2 separate regions of the Homo sapiens genome follow, and region 2 is linked to region 1. Evidence: fine-mapped expression QTL. Tissue or cell type: pancreas. Region 1 holds a variant in brackets; the other region holds the start of a gene. All regions are shown on one strand. Distances are between the middles of the regions.

The links. PIP is the estimated chance that this variant, and not a neighbour inherited with it, causes the effect.
Region 2: it holds the start of HOOK2, and the variant in region 1 is fine-mapped to the expression of HOOK2 in pancreas (GTEx, PIP 0.97).

Annotation. Positions count from the first base shown.
Region 1 is chr19:12,664,042-12,672,116 of GRCh38, forward strand. MAN2B1 (mannosidase alpha class 2B member 1) reads right to left here and starts at 2,701. Exons shown (of 24, transcript NM_000528.4): 1 at 2,502-2,701; 2 at 1,662-1,764; 3 at 1,311-1,484; 4 at 751-944. The coding sequence starts at 2,660. It overlaps WDR83 (WD repeat domain 83), which reads left to right and starts at 2,766. Exons shown (of 11, transcript NM_001099737.3): 1 at 2,766-2,951; 2 at 4,467-4,586; 3 at 5,714-5,852; 4 at 5,936-6,056; 5 at 6,139-6,244; 6 at 6,522-6,570; 7 at 6,654-6,780. The coding sequence starts at 5,750. WDR83OS (WD repeat domain 83 opposite strand) reads right to left here and starts at 5,374. Exons shown (of 4, transcript NM_016145.4): 1 at 5,313-5,374; 2 at 5,087-5,192; 3 at 4,479-4,576; 4 at 4,032-4,384. The coding sequence starts at 5,362. The coding sequence ends at 4,318. RefSeq lists enhancers at 371-1,319, 1,144-1,193, 1,320-2,267, 1,334-1,383, 1,924-1,973 and 5 more, a silencer at 2,564-2,843 and a cis regulatory region at 7,870-8,075. The variant T/G (reference allele first, on the strand shown) is at 3,308.
Region 2 is chr19:12,772,325-12,780,399 of GRCh38, forward strand. HOOK2 (hook microtubule tethering protein 2) reads right to left here and starts at 3,228. Exons shown (of 23, transcript NM_013312.3): 1 at 3,081-3,228; 2 at 2,488-2,573; 3 at 2,345-2,417; 4 at 670-720; 5 at 456-588; 6 at 289-356. The coding sequence starts at 3,125. RefSeq lists enhancers at 2,150-2,830, 2,831-3,509, 6,563-6,612, cis regulatory regions at 3,046-3,687, 5,187-5,707, 6,807-7,407 and a silencer at 3,072-3,291.

The DNA of each region.
Region 1 (8,075 bases):
CAACACGGGCAGACTGTCTACAAAAAATTTAAAAATTAGCCAGGCGTAGTGGTGCGCTCTTGTAGTCTCATCTACTAGGGGGGCTGAGACAGGAGAATCGCTTGAATCCGGGAGATTGAGGCTATAGTGAGTTAGGATTGCACCACTGCACTCCAGCCTGGATGACAGCAAGACCCTGTCTCAAAAAACAAAAACAAAAACACGTAGGGCTGAAACAGAGAGGCCTCCAGCTTATTTCCAAGCTTGGGGAAGTTTCAGAACTCACCACCTTGGGCTAGCAGGGAGAGGGCGGGTCCAACATCAGAACCCAGGTTCACCTCCCCAGCACTGTCAAAGCGCAGAGCAGGCCTGACTCCAGGAATGAGGTTCCCCCTTCCACAGCCTGAGGATGGATGGGGTCTGAGCACAGGTAATGAACCTGTTTTTAAGGCAGCCTAGGCATCCACTTGCCACCCGGTTTAGGGAGGAGCCAGGACCCGAGCTAGTGGGTGGGGCCAGAACACCAAGAGGGGCCTATTAGGGGAGAGGGCGGAGCCAGCCGGAGCTGGGTCAGCCTGGGCTGGGCATAGCCGGCTGAGGCCAGAGCTCAAAAGCCACTGGCTTTACGGCTCACTCAAGGGGCAGGGCTTCAACAGGCCTAGGCCTGGGCCTGGTCCTTGTGAGATTGCAGGGAGAGGGCGGGGTTTGACTGGGCGAGGGAGGAGCCAGAGTGAGTGAAGAAGTGGGCCCAAGAGAGGTCCCGGGTCGCACCTGCGCAAACAGCGAGGCCTGCTCCCGAGAGTGGCCGAAGGGGTCAATGTGCCAGGCCACACGGGGTCGCCCATCATTGCCAAATGTGTCCTCCAGAAAGCGCAGCCCAAGTGTCATCTGGTCCACGATGGCACCGTAGTGGGTGGCTGCCTCATCGTTCATCACCCAGCCACCATTGGCGAACTCCAGGCGCCCTGTGCCAGGACAGGCAAGGTCAGGGTCAGCGGTCAGAGCCAGGAGTGGGAGTAGGGTGGGTGATACTGGGAATGTGAAAGCCTGCCTGTGTACACATTTCTGGCGGAAGGACAAGAGGGGTCGCTCCCAGGCCATAGTTCCCAGATATGGGAAAGAGGCCCCCTGCATGGCAGGCTTCCCAGAGGATGCACAGCAGGTGGGGCTTTGTGGGATGTATAGGAGGTCTCCAAATGGAGAGTCCAGGCAGGCGGAGCGACACGCATGTTATACAGCTTGCACGTGGCATGACAAATCTCAGAAACCAGAGATGCAGAAGCAGAAGCTGGGCTGGGCTTCCTCTTTTCACTTCCTTGGGGTAGGCTCACCCTGGCGCACAAGGTCTCGCACGACTTCCTGTGTGGCATTTGTCTGCTGGTGCCACCAACGGGAGAAGAAGGCAATCTCCACGTAAATGAAGCGACGGGTGGGATCTGCCAGCAAGGCAGAGATGACCGAGTCCAGGATGTACTGCACACCGGCGTGCTGGATGTCATTCTTGACTGTGGATAACAGGGATAAGGCTCTCAGGGAACAGCAGAGCCAAGGGGGTTATTCCTAGACAGAGGAGCCCAAACCCTGGATATTAGGGTAGCACTGGCCCCACCCTAATGTCCAGGACCCAGAGGGATTACAGGGACCATGGGGATCCCAGGGACCAGTCCCCATCCTCTACTCACTTCCATAAAAGTACTGGTCCACGGTTTTGAGCCAGCCCACGTCATCATGTGTGTGAGGCAGCAGGTGCACGTTCAGCATGTTCGGCTGCACTGTGGGGCATGTCTGCACAGGGACCCCAAACACACATACCTTGTCAATAACCCCCGAGGTCGGGGGCTGCAGAGTAAGTCTTGATCTAGAGGTGAGTGACTCAGAGAGGCCTGATCTCGCCTATGTGCAGAGGAGGCCAGGCCCTCCCAGGCAGGACACACACATACATAGTTGTGCTCATAGATACAACTCCACTTTGCACAACCCCACAGGGCAGCTCTCATTCACACTCCGGGAAAATAATAATAGAAGTAGCTGATGTTTGTTCAGCATTTGCCGACAGCAGACGGCCACCGTGGGAGGTGGGGTGATGTTATCCCCAGTTTCCAGATGAAGGCACTGAGGCTTAGAGAGGATAGGTGACTTGCCCAACGTCACACACTCAGGAAGTGTAAGAGCTAGGCTGGAATTTCAGGCAGACTCCAGAGTCCCAGCTCTCAGCCAGCACCTCCCCCCACACATACACTGCTCACCCCCTGCCACCTCCTGCCCCTCCAATCCCACAGTTAAGTGCAGACAAAGTCTAGGCAAGCATCCCGGAGACACGGAGGCAGGTACAATCAGACACAGTCCTATACTCAGATGCGCACAGCCAGACCTCGCAATGACACAAAGCACGCACTCAGACCACACTGTCATATCATCAGCCATTCACTAGACACCCACAGGACAGACCCACCCACACCTCTAGACTGTATTCTGGGTTTCACTCTGCCTCCTGTACGTTTCAGCTCGGAGGCCCCACTCACCTCGTATCCCCCGGCCCGAGCACCGGCAGCCGCCAGCAACAAAAGGAAAAAGCAGAGAGGCGGGAGCGGTGGCCGCAGGGCGCGGGACATGGTCCAGGGGCCTGCTGAGTCCAGGCAGCCGCGAGCGCAGACCCCCGAAGCCCGCGCGTAGGCGCCCATGGCTCAGCAGCTTCCTCCTGGGGTTCCCCGGCCCTGGAAAGGCCGGGCAAACGCCCCGCCCCCAGACCCGGCCGGGCCAATCGGGGTGGGGGGCGGGGCCAGGGCGCGGTCTGGAGGCTCACGGGAGAGAGGCTGTAGCCCTGGGCAATCCCGGGGGTCGTTACAGGAAGGTAGGAAAATGCCACCCTCAGGGCACTGGTTGGGCTAAAGGTGACACTGGCGTCTCACGGGCTATGAAGACGGAATGCCTCTTAATGCCGGAATTCCAAGACGGAATGCCTCTTAATGCCGGTAGGAGCAGAAGTGCTTTTCCTAAGGGGGCCGGGTTTTCCTAGCCGGTGTAGTGTGTCCATGGGAATCCAGGGTGTCCGTCCCATGGACCTTCAGCGCTAGGGTCCTGGAAGGACCTAGCTTGCCTAAGAGGAGGATCTGATGAAGAGTCCTATACTGTGGGGATTGGGACGTTGGGTAAATACCCCTGGAGTACCAGGGATGGGATCCAGCCTGGTTGAGAAGGATCCCTGGGTGTTCCGGAGAGAAAAGAGGGTCTGACAAGTGGGGAAGGACCCCGAGTCTTTCATGCCTTTCCCAATTCCTACCAGTTCATTCTCTGATAAGAAAACAAAGCCCAGGGCAGGCGCAGTGGC[T/G]CAAGCCTGCAATCCCAGCACTTTGGGAGGGCCAGGCTGGTGAATCACTTGGGCCTGGGAGTTTGAGACCAGCCTGGGCAACATGGGTTGTTTTGTAGAGACGGGTTTGAAAACACAAAATTTGTAATTTTACACAAAATGTAAAAATACAAAAATTAGCTGGGCATGGTGGCACATGCCTGTAATCCCAGCTACTTGGGAGACTGAGGCAGGAGAATCACTTGAACCTGGGAGGCGGAGGTTGCAGTGAGCCGAGATCAAGATCATGCCATTGCCCTCCAGCCTGGGCAACAAGAGCAAAACTCTGTCTCAAAAAAAACAAGAATTAACTGGGCATGGTAGCACGCATTTGTGGTCCCAGTTACGTGGCAGGCTGAGGTGGGAGGATTGCTTGAGCCCAGGAGTTTGAGGCTGCAGTGAACATAGATTGTGCCACTGCACTCAGCCTGCATGACAGATCAAGACCATTTTCTTTCTTAAAAAGGAAAAAAAAAAAAGGAAACCAAAGCCTAGATTATCTAGGTCAGCAGGGCCATCTGGTGAGTTGCCAGAGGGCAGAAGTCACTGTCTTGTCCCTAGCACCTGACTTAAGACACAAGGTTTATGAAGTAAGCAAATGAACAGCCAGAAGCCTCCAGACTGGGGCCCCACACCAGGCCTATGGGGCTAGAGCCCTTCCCGCCAGGTAGGAGGAACACCCCACTGAACAGAAGAGGCTGACAGCCAGAGTGAAAAACTTTATTAACAACAGGTTTCAACGAGAAAGCAAATGAATACCCCTAGAAACATGGACAGCATCTCCCCCAGCAGCAGGCAGGGGAAGGGAGGCAGGAGGGGTAAGCCTAGGGTGTTCCCTAGGAAAGGGCCAGGTTCCCTCTATCCAGCTGGGGGCACCGAGACGGCCTCATTCAGGGAAGTCCAGGATGGCAGCTGAAGGCAGCAGGTTTAGCAGCCAAAGCCCAGGCCTAGTGGATAGACAGGGTCCAAAATGTGACCCTTCTAGGCTGGTATCACCATGGGGGCGTCATGGGCTGAGGATTCTGCAGATAGGACATCACCACGGCAGAGATGGACAGCCTGAGACAGGAGAGAGGTGTCAGTCTAGGATGGCCAGGCTGGGGTCCCCCCACCCCTTACTCAAGAGTCACTTGTTCTGTAGGGCAAGTCTCACATGAAGCTACTCATCATTTGCTTCGTGTCCTCCGAGCTCCGAGAGTTGGCAAAGCTGATGAAGGAGCAGTAGACAGCGACCCAAGCACACCACTTCAGCTAGGGAAAGGTAAGTGGGTGGGCAGGTTAGTGAAAGGCACAACAATGAGTCCCCGAAGCCACCTTTCCAGACACCAGATCATGCCCACTGATTCCATCTGATGCAGCTGGGACCTTGCCCCACCCGGAATTCCTCAGTCCCACCTGCTCATGGCATACTCTAGATACGTGGTTTCTAGTCCTACTGTCTGGCCTGCGTCTCTCAGGACCAAGAGAGACTCTGACATCCCACATGCTTAAGACCCTGCCCTTTTTCCACAACTCCTCTCCAAGTTGCTTCAAAGCCTGGCCCCACTCGCAGACCAATCTGCCACATCCCCAACCTGACTCGAATCCTTGACTTCACCAAAGACTGGGGCTTTCTCGGCCCAGCGTCATCGCAGCCCCACTCCCGGCCGATCTCAGGTCCCGCCCCATCAGCAATGACAAGACACCCCGCTTCATTCCAAACCCGCCCCCGGGCCTCGTTCTCAGGTCCAACTACACCCATAGAAGCTCAACCCCGCCCACCTTAAGCATGAGGCCGCACATGCTGAAGATCATGCCCAGCAGGTTCATGTAGTCCGGCGTCGGGTCGTCCAAGGCCGGGTTACATTCGCTCGGCGGGGGCTTGTACCTGCGACAGGCTCGAGGGTCAGGGGCGCTCAGGTCCTGCCCCCGGGATAGACAGGCGCTTCCCAGGGCCCCGATCCACACCCACAACCCGAACCCGTGCCCACGACGCTGGGGTCCTCACCTCAGCACTTTGTTCGGCCTCCGTGGGTCCGACATATTGTTAGTGGACATAGCGAGTCGAAGGCCAGATCACGCCTCTTCCGCTGCAGGAATCGCAGCTTCCGGCGTGCAAGCTGAGGGCGGATTTTAGAGTAACACCCGAGGCCCTCGCATTTCCGTTCCTCATGACAGAGGCTTGGACTCCCCTTACCCAGAGAACGGAGATTTAGGAGAAGCCAGAAGTCTTCCTTTCAAAGGGAAAATGGGGAAAAGAACCTGAAAGCGGGCTTCAATAGTTCCAACCCGATCACCGAAATGCCAAAATGATGAACCCGGAAGTGATAAACAGGAAGTAGGTCAGGAAGAACAATAATAAGGTTACACCCAAGCGTGGGTTTCTAAGGCGCGGAATTTTCCGTACAGACCGATTTAAGGCTGCAAGGAAGGAGTCCTGGGAGCATGGCTTTCCCTGAGCCAAAGCCGCGGCCTCCAGAGCTGCCGCAGAAACGGTTGAAGACGCTGGACTGCGGGCAGGGGGCAGTGCGAGCCGTACGATTTAATGGTGAGCGCCTTCGTCTTCATTCCGGGTCCTCCTCCCGCCTCCTGAGATCGACGGCCCAGTAACCCCCGCCTGGTGTTCCCCAGTGGATGGCAATTACTGCCTGACGTGCGGCAGTGACAAGACGCTGAAGCTGTGGAACCCGCTTCGGGGGACGCTGCTGCGGACGTACAGCGGCCACGGCTACGAGGTGCTGGATGCGGCCGGGTGAGCCGGGGACCAGGCTGGGATGGGAGCGCTGAGGCTGGGATCCGAGGTCGATGCTGATCCTCCTCCTCCTTTACTCCAGCTCCTTTGACAACAGTAGTCTCTGCTCCGGCGGCGGGGACAAGGCGGTGGTTCTGTGGGATGTGGCATCAGGGCAGGTCGTGCGCAAATTCCGGGGCCACGCAGGGGTGAGTGAAAGCCTGGAGACCCTCATTTGAGTGGAGGGGACCCGTATTAGCGCATAGGTGGTGACACGGCCACCCCCATTACACCGTAAGGATCCCTTCCCCAGATGACGATCCCCCACTCCGCATGCCAGGCTAGGCAGTCACCAACCCCTGTCCTTGCTGTTCCCCCAAAACCTTTCACCTCCCCTTCGCCCTTGCTTTAACCGACACTGGGAACCCTGCCTTTATCCCAGTCCTCCAAAGTCCAGCCTCCTCTGAGTGGCAATAACTTTCTCAGAAGGTGAACACGGTGCAGTTTAATGAAGAGGCCACAGTTATCCTGTCCGGTGAGTCTGGGGCCTAAGCACGGGGGCCCAGGGTGCTGCCCTCCCCCTCCAAACCTGACCTCACCATCATGCTGGCCTCACAGGCTCTATTGATTCCAGTATCCGCTGTTGGGATTGCCGCTCACGGAGGCCTGAGCCAGTGCAGACGCTGGATGAGGCCAGAGATGGCGTGTCCAGTGTGAAGGTGTCAGACCACGAGATCCTGGCAGGGTGAGTGGAGCCAGGACCTGGTCTCACCCCAGGTGCTACGGGGAATCATAGCTGCCCCCATGCTCAGATTAAAACCTACTCTCAGCTGGGCACAGTGGCACACAGCTGTAATCCCAGCTACTTGGGAGGCTGAAGTGGAAGGATCACTTGAGTCCAAGAGTTCGAGGCACCATTGCACTCCATGCTGGGTGAAAGACAGACTGTCTACAAAATAATAATAATCTGGCCGGGCACGGTGGCTCACACCTGTAATCCCAGCACTTTGGGAGGCCAAGGTGGGCAGATCACTTGAGGTCAGGAGGTTGAGATCAGCCTGGCCAACATGGTGAAACCCCGTCTCTACTAAAAATGCAAAAATTAGCCAGGTGTGGTGACGGGAGCCTGTAATCCCAGCCACTCGGGAGGCGGAGGCAGGAGAATCGCCTGAACCCGGGAGTTGGAGGTTGCAGTGAGCCGAGATTGTGCCACTGCACTCCAGCCTGGGCGACAAAGTGAGACTCCATCTCAAAAAAAAAAAGATAAAATGATTTCTAAAAATAAATAAAAATAGGCCGGGCGCTGTGGCTCATGCCTGTAATCCCAGCACTTTGGGAGGCAGAGGCAGGCGGATCATGAGGTCAGGAGATCGAGATCATTCTGGCTAACACGGTGAAACCCCGTCTCTACTAAAAATACAAAAAATTAGCCGGGCATAGTGGCAGGCGCCTGTAGTCCCAGCTACTCAGGAGGCTGAGGCAGGAGAATGGAGTGAACCCAGGAGGCAGAGCTTGCTGTGAGCCGACATCGCACCACTACACTCCTGGGCGATAGAGCAAGACTCCGTCTCAAAATAAGTAAATAAATTAAATAAATAAATACATAAAAATAATCATAAGGAAGAATTTTTGTTTTTTTTGAGACGCAGTCTCGCTCTGTTGCCAGGCTGGAGTGCAGTGACGTGATCTCGGCTCACTGCAACCTCTAACTTCTAGGTTCAGGCGATTCTCCTGCCTCAGCCTCCCTAGTAGCTGGGACTACAGTCGCGTGCCACCACGCCCAGCTAATTTTTGTATTTTTAGTAGAGACGGGGTTTCGCCATGTTGGCCAGGAGGGTCTCCATCTCTTGACCTCGTGATCCACCTGCCCTGGCCTCCCAAAGAGCTGGAATCACAGGCGTGAGCCACCGCGCCTGGTGGAAAAAATATATTTTCTATTCATTAAGTGGAAGTGAAGAGATCGTCATAAAGATCTTCGTGTTGAGAAAGCAGAGGAGGAGGAAGAGGAGGGATTGATCTTGGTGTCTCACAGCTGATAGA
Region 2 (8,075 bases), 110 kb after region 1:
CTGAGAACCTCTCCATCCTCCCGTCAAGGCCAGTTCTGCCCAATAACCCCAGCCCAGAGGCTGCCCTCCTGCCTCCAACACAGAGGGAAGCCAGATCCCTTGAGCCTGCTAGATTGCGACTTAGAGCTGGGAGGAGCTGGCAGACACATGAGACAGAGATGTCTGGCCAGCTGAGTTCCAGGCAGAGTCCAGACCTTACCAGGGCAGGACCTGTGCCCAGTTCTCTCTGCCCTAGAGATGTCCCCTCTCCTGACATTTTCCAATTGCACACTGAGTGCCCCCACCCACCTCTTGGATGGCTTCCATCACCACATGCTGAACCGATTCTTCCAGCGTCATGATTCTCTGGATGTGGTCTGGGGATCAAGGTGGGGGAGGCTGAGACCCAGGGGTGAGGTGGGGAGGAAGGAGGATTTCCTCAGGCCAGCCCTGGGGACCCCCTAAGCTCCCCATACCCTGCTTTTTCTCGCAACTGATGGCACAGCCCAGCACCAGCTGAAGCAGCTTGCCGAGCTCTGCCGGGTCTGAGAACTCTCCAATGAGGCTCACATCTGGGAGATGCTCTTCTGACACAGGATGCGCCAGGACCTGGGGAGAAGGGGGTGTCAGGGGCTCATGGGCCCACCCTTCTCCCAACTCAACCCCCTGAATCCCTTTACAGTTACTCACATCCTGGGAGTACTCTACTAGGCTCCGTAAGACCATCTTCAGATTGCTGACCTAGGGAGGAACAAGGAACTGTGGACAAGTTCAGAGGCCTCCCACTCTGAATCTGTAGGTCCCATCCTCTCTCCACCTCACTTCTCCTTCCCTGCTCATCTCATCCTATTCTGTCTGCGTGCGCCTTCCTCTAGGGGTGACCTGTCTGGCTGTCTGCCCCTTTTGTCTGCCTGACCATCTTTGTTTCTTTTTTTTTTTTTTTTTTTTTTTGCTTTAGCTTTTTAAGACAGGGTCTGGCTCTGTCACCCAGGCTGGAGTGCAGTGGTGCAATCTTGGCTCACTGCAGCCTCGACCTCCTGGGGTCAAGCAATCCTCCTATCTCTGCCTCCCAGTAGCTGGGACTACAGGCATATGCCACCACAATCGACTACTTTTTTTTATTTGTAGAGAGGAGGTTTTGCTATGTAGCCCAGGCTGGTCTCAAGCTCCTGAGCTCAAGCAATCCTCCCACCTCAGCCTCTAAAATTGCTGGGATTACAGGCATGAGCCACTGTGCCCGGCCTGCCTGACCATCTTCCTTCATATGTCTCCAGAACCAAGTCACTTCTCACCACCTGCCCCACCATCCTTCAGCCCTACCCATCCATCTTTACCTCTCACCTGGATTAGTGCACCAGCTGCCTCTCCTCTTCCACTTTTGCTGCCTACATTTTATTTCTCTCCATGCAGCCAGGGGGAGCTTTATAAAGCCCAAGCCAGGTTGCATCTTTGCTCTGCTAAAACCCTGCCTTGACTTTCCACAGCACTTAAAAATAGAATCCACACCCCCACCATGGCCTGCCAGGCCCCTGATGACCTCATCTCCTACAAATCTTGCCCTCTTGCTCTGTTCTGCCCTCTCTGCCATTCCTCCATCACACCAAGTTTATTCCCAAATCACGGCCTTTACATCTGCTATTCCCTATGCCTGGAACACCGTTCCCCCAAATTTCACTTGGAGATTAACCCATCTGATGTAATCAGCCACCTATGCCCTCATTGCTCTCTCTCAAAGCCCTGCTTTTTTGTTGTCTTCACAGAACTACTGGCATCAAAAGTTTTTTCTTTTTCTTTTTCTTTTTCTTTTTTTCTTCTTCTTGAGACAAGAGTCTCGCTCTGTTGCCCAGGCTGGAGTGCAATGGCTCAATCTCAGCTCACTGCATCCTCCACCTCCCAGGTTCAAGTGATTCTCATGTCTCAGCCTCCCAAGTAACTGGGATTACAGGTGCACACCACCCCACCCAGCTAATTTTTGTATTTTTAGTAGAGATGGGGTTTCAACTTGTTGGCCAGGCTGGTCTTGAACTCCTGGCCCCAGGTGATCCACCCACTTTAGCCTCTCAAAGTGTTGGGATTACAGGCATGAGCCACTGCGCCCAGCCTGGAAGTTAATTTTTATGGTTGTGTATGTGTTGCTTGTCACTAGAATGATGGCTGTGTGGGGCAGGTTTTTGTCTGTGTTATTCCTTGCTGAATGCCCAGGCCTGGCACAGGGTGAGTACTCCATAGATGAATGGATGAACAAATGGTTGATCACCAGACATCTGTCCCTCTTCCTGCCCATCACCCAGGACATGTGCCTAGCTGGCCCGTCCCTGGTCATCTCTTCACCAGTCTGTCCTCTAATCAGGAGTCCACTTGTCACCTTCAGCTTCCAGTTGGGACCTGGATCTTCCGAGATGCCCTGGAGCCATGCCTCGTTGAACCAGGAGGGGTCTCTGGGGGCGAGAAGGTGGGATGAGCAGACTGGGGGACACTTTTGGGATCCTCCCCTTCAGCTCCACTCACATCTGGTTCAGCACATAGGCTACGGCAAGGCCGCTGCTCAGGTCCTGAGGGCTGGCACAGGGAGACGGAACGTGGAACGTCTGTAACTGAGGGGTAAAGGAAAGGACAAGGAAAGAGTTAGGGCCTGGGAGCGCCGAACCGCTCCCCTTTTGCAGACTTTTCCAGTCAGCGAACCTCACATGGTGGGGCGGGCGCTGCTCCGCCACAGCAGCTCTGCGAGGGACTGGCTTCTGCTCACCTGAGACCGGAGGGGGCGTGGCCTCACCTCACCTCTGCCCAACAAACCCTGCGCGTCCAGGCCAGGGTGGTATCGCGAGTCACCTGGGCCCCACAGGCACCACGTGACCAGGCCAATTCACCTGTGTCCTCGCCCCACGTGAACCAACCACAGAGGGGCGGGGCCTCACCTGTCCTTTCCACGCAGACTTGCCACGTGACGGGGGCGGGTGCTCGGGCCAGAGTCCAACGGTCCAGCAAGTCGACGACCCCGCACCTCCCAGCCCCAGCACCAAGAGACTGACCGAACCAGGGCCAGGGATCCCGGGCAAGAGGAGCGGGCGCTCACCTTCCCCTAGCCCCGCCCCACGACCTACCCAGGTGAGCAGAGACCCGCATAGCTCAGCTTTGTCCACGCTCATGGCTCCCGATCGGATTCAATCCAGGCCACGGAGCCCCGGCGCCGCAGCAGCCTCCGGGTCCGCCACCAGCGAGCGCCCGCAGCCCCGACCTCCCGCTCGGCCTAGAGCGCCGCCCCGCCCCGCCCCCCTAGGCGCAGGCCCCGCCCCGCCCCCAAGCCCAGGCTCCGCCTCGGAACGTAATCTCCTCCCTACGCCCGCTCTTGCCTCCAGCCCCGCCATCTTGGATCCGGGCACCGTTCGGGCGCCCGCCCTGCCGCTAGGGGTCAGCCTGGCCCAGCCTTGTGCATCCGAGGGTGGTCCCACCTCCCATCCTCGCCCTGGCCCTTTTTGGGGTGGGAGGTCCTCAAGATCCTTTTGAGACGGAGGTGCTCCACCCTGTTACACAAGCGCATTCACGTCTTTTCCCTGCAACTTAAGTAAATTCTTTTTTTTTTTTTTTTTTTTTTTGAGACGGAGTCTCGCTGTCGCCCAGGCTGGAGTGCAGTGGCGCAATCTCGGCTCACTGCAGGCTCCGCCCCCTGGGGTTCACGCCATTCTCCTGCCTCAGCCTCCCGAGTAGCTGGGACTACAGGCGCCCGCCACCTCGCCCGGCTAATTTTTTGTATTTTTAGTAGAGACGGGGTTTCACCGTGTTAGCCAGGATGGTCTCGATCTCCTGACCTCGTGATCCGCCCGCCTCGGCCTCCCAAAGTGCTGGGATTACAGGCGTGAGCCACCGCGCCCGGCCTTAAGTAAATTCTTGTGTCTAACCACTTTATAATCGGAGCCGTTGTGCGGGGAGGGGCGAGCCCTGGCACTTTCTATGGACTGGGAGAGGGGATGCTAAAGGGGTTTTCCCGCCGGACGCGGTGGCTCTCGACTGTAATCCCAGTATTTTGGGAGGCCTAGGAGGGAGAATTAATTTGGATAGAAGTTGGAGACCAGCCTCTCTTCAAAAAATTTAAAAATTACCCAGGTAGCGGTGGCTCACGCCTGTAATCCCAGCACTTTGGGAGGCCGAGGCGGGCGGATCACGAGGTCAGGTGTTCGAGACCAGCCTGGCCAACATGGTGAAACCCCGTCTCTACTAAAAATACTAAAAATTAGCTGGGCGTGGTGGCGCACGCCTGATTTCAGCTACTCGGGAGGCTGAGGCAGGAGAATCGCTTGAACCCTGGAGGCGGAGGTTGCAGTCAGCCGAGATCGTACCACTGCACTCCAGGGGGCAACAGTGCAAGACTCCTCAAAAAAAAAAAAAAAAAAATTAGCCAGACATGTTGGCGTGTTTCTGTGGTCCTAGCTCCTAGCTCTACAGAGGCTGAGGTGGGAGGATAGCTTGAGCCCAGGAGGTCGAGACTGCAGTGAGCCGTGATAGGGCCACTACACTCCAGTCTGGGTGACAGAGCAAGACTCTGTCTCAAAAAAAAACAGTAAAAATTTAAAAATAGGGCCGGGCGCGGCGGCTCACGTCTGTATCCCAGCACTTTGGGAGGCCTAGGCAGGCGGATCACGAGGTCAGGAGATCGAGACCATCCTGGCTAACACGGTGAAACCCCTTCTCTACTAAAAATACAAAAAATTAGCCGGGCATGGTGGCACGCGCCTGTAGTCCCAGCTACTCGGGAGGTTGAGGCAGGAGAATAGCTTGAACCCAAGAGGCGGAGGTTGCAGTGAGCCGAGATCGCGCCACTGCACTCCAGCCTGGGCGACAGAGTGAGACTGTCTCAAAAAAAATAAATAAAATAAAATAAAATAAAATAAAATGCCTGGCGCGATGGTTCACATCTGTAATCCCAGCACTTTGGGAGGTCGAGGAGGGAGGACTGCTTGAACCCAGGAGTTCGAGAACAGCCCTGGCAACACAGCGAGACTCCGTCTCTACAAAAATAAAATAAAAAATAAAAGTAGCTGGGCGTGGTGGCACGCGCCTATTCCCAGCTACTCCAGAGGCTGAGGTGGGAGGATCGCTTGAGTCCGGGAGGTCAACGCTGCAGTGAGCCGTGGTCGCGCCACTGCACTCCAGCCTGGACGTCAGGGGGGAGACCCTGTTTCAAGAAATAAATAAATGAATGGATCCTCCCTGCATTATTGACTCCAGCAGTAGATAAGGGGACACGGGTATGGTCCTAGGTCGAGAAGAGGTCAGTTAGACACACATGTCCTGGCTGATGGATAGGCACCCTTGCCCAGCCTGGATCCGTCTTCCACGATATTCCCCCCGCGCCTTGCCCTCCCCAGATGCGCGCCCGGCATCACCCCCACCTCAGAACCCAGGATTTGGCTGAAGCTGCCGCGTCGCCCGGGCCCACCAGGGGGCGCGGAGACCGCAGAACGCGGCCTAGGGGGAAGACTGTGCGCCCGCCCTGAAACCCCGGCTGGGGCGGTGGAGCGGGGGTCAATGGAAAGTGATGGGAATTATAGTTAACAATAAATTGCAGTCACCATGTATGGAGTGCTTACTGTATGCAGTCCTTGCGCTAAGCGATTTAAATACATAGACTATTGAATCCTCCCCATGTCTCCAGATGGCAAGTGCTGTTTTAATTCCCTGCTTTGCCGGCGAGAAAACAGAGGTTCCGAGTGGACCGGGTTTTGAGGGGAAGGGTGAAGCCCAGGCTCGCGCCCTGTGACCCCAGGGTCCCTCTGCAACCCCTCCCCGGTAGACGGGCGGGGTAATGTGCACTAATTAGAGGTTATTAGCTGTACCCAGAGGGAGGGGCGGGCTCTGCATTGGGGGCGGGCCCAGATCGGAGGGGAGGGGCGCTGCTCCCACCCACCCAGAAGATCCTGGCGCCAGAGACCTTGCCCCGGAGCAGGGTGGGCAAAGTGACAGCTGCTCCCCGCGCGCATCGCACGAACGCAGTCACTCACCCCCAGACACCCGATTACAGCCCACTCATGCGCAGCCGTACGCACCCGGGGGCCTCGGATGCTCGTCCATATCCCCACAACCTCCTCCCGCGTGGTTTTCCAGACTCCAGCCCCTGGGAGCGGGTGGAGAGGATAGTGGGGGAAGGGGACAAGGGCCGGCAGCGCTGGCTTCCGGACTGGGCTGTCTTCCGGCGGTCGTGGGAACAGCTGCCGTTGGCTCCCCGACCTCGCATTCACCAGAGGAGAGGGTGCTGCCAATACAGGGAAACAGGGCCACCCCGTTCCCAGGTAGCAATGGGAGGTGAGCCAGGAACCACAGCTGTTACAAGCATGGGTGGCTGGACATGCTGAGATCACCACATTAGGGCGGGGGTCGCAGGGATTTTGATGTTTAGGGGAAATCTGGAAATCCAAATATTTAGGCAAATTGACTTAAATTGTGCTAATGTTGGCGTGATGTTGTGGGCGTCCCAGATGTTCGGGGAGCCAGGAGTCCCCAGACTTAAGGAAAATCTGGGTGTGCTCAATTTGGGGGAGGAGCATAACCCTCCATTTTGCGGCGGCAGGGAGTCCCACATTTGGGGAAAAGCAGTGAGCTTCTATGTCGGCGGGGAAGACAGCAGCAATCTCTGTTTTGAAACACAGGGAGCCCCGCTGTGCGGAGATCCAGGCACCTTTAATTCAGCAAGAGGGGCTGAAAAACCCTCCACATTTTGGAAGAAGGATCCAAACCCCTGTTTTAGGTAAAGAGAGCCCCCAACGTTTTGGGGGATGGTCTGAAGGCCGCCATTTGTAGGGACACAGAGCCCTGGTGTGCAGGTCTGGGCCAGCAGCCCCCAGCTGGATTGGGGAGCCCACCCCCTCTACTGGTTTCCAGGAACAGCTGGGCCCAGCCTAGGTTGTACTGCTGGGAAGCGGCTGACTCAACCCCTCCCTGTGGCCACAGCTGGACCCCGGCCTGCCCCCTCCAGCGTTCACATCTGGGCAGGGATCCAGTCTTCATCAGGGCTGAGAAGGGGACCCTCAGTCCCACAACTGGAGAACAGTGCCCCTCTGCCACTCCCCTGGCTGACCACAGCCACTGGGTGGACTCCATGCATCATCACCATGGAGGACTCTGGCAGGCCCCCTACAGCCCAGATATTGACATCCTGCCAGGAACTCCTAGCCAGTCCCCCCTCCCTGTGTCTGTGTGTGTCTGAGTCCATGTGAAATGTGCTAGGTTTTTTTGTGTTTTTGAGAGAAAGGGTTTTGCTATGTTGCCCAGGATGGTCTCGACCTCCTGACTTCAAGTAATCCTCCTGCCTCTGCCTCCTAAAGTGCTGGGATTTCAGGCGTGAGCCACGGCGCCTGGCCAAATGTGCTGGTCTTTGTAGGTGTGAGATGGAGGATCTGTGACTGTGTGTACACGGGCATGTGTCCTGCATCCATTGTGTCATAAGGCCTTCGAGTTTGTGCAACAGGCTGTGCCTGATTTGATGGGGGGGAGGGCTGGTTTCGGGGACTGGGGGAGGGGAAATTTGTAACATCCTTGTCGGTAACATCCTTGTCCGTAACATCCAGGTTGGGGCCGGGCTTGGTGGCTCGCGCCAGTAATCCCAGCACTTTGGGAGGTCAAGGCAGACAGATCACTTGAGGTCAGGGGTTCAAGACCAGCCTGGCCAACATAGTGAAACCCTGTCTCTACTAATAATACAATAATCAGCCAGGCGTGGTGGTGAGCGCCTGTAATCCCAGCTACTCAGGAGGTTGAGGCAAGAGAATTGCTTGAACCTGGGAGGCAGAGATTGCAGTGAGCCGAGAACGCGCCATTACACTCTAGCCTAGGTAACAAAGCAAGACTCCATCTCAAAAACAACAACAACCAAAAAAACCCATCCAGATTTTAGGGTGACTAGGGAACCTCTAGTGTGTGCCCCTGTGTATCTCTGTATGGTCCAGGCAGAGTTTGGGTGGGGCTCTCTCACTCCAATTGCATCTTCATGTGTTGTGTGTCTGTGTCTACTATATACGTCTATATGGGACCTCACTTTGGGTCTATATCTGTGTCATTCTTTTTTTCTTTTTCTTTTTTTGAGACGGAGTCTCACTCTGTCACCC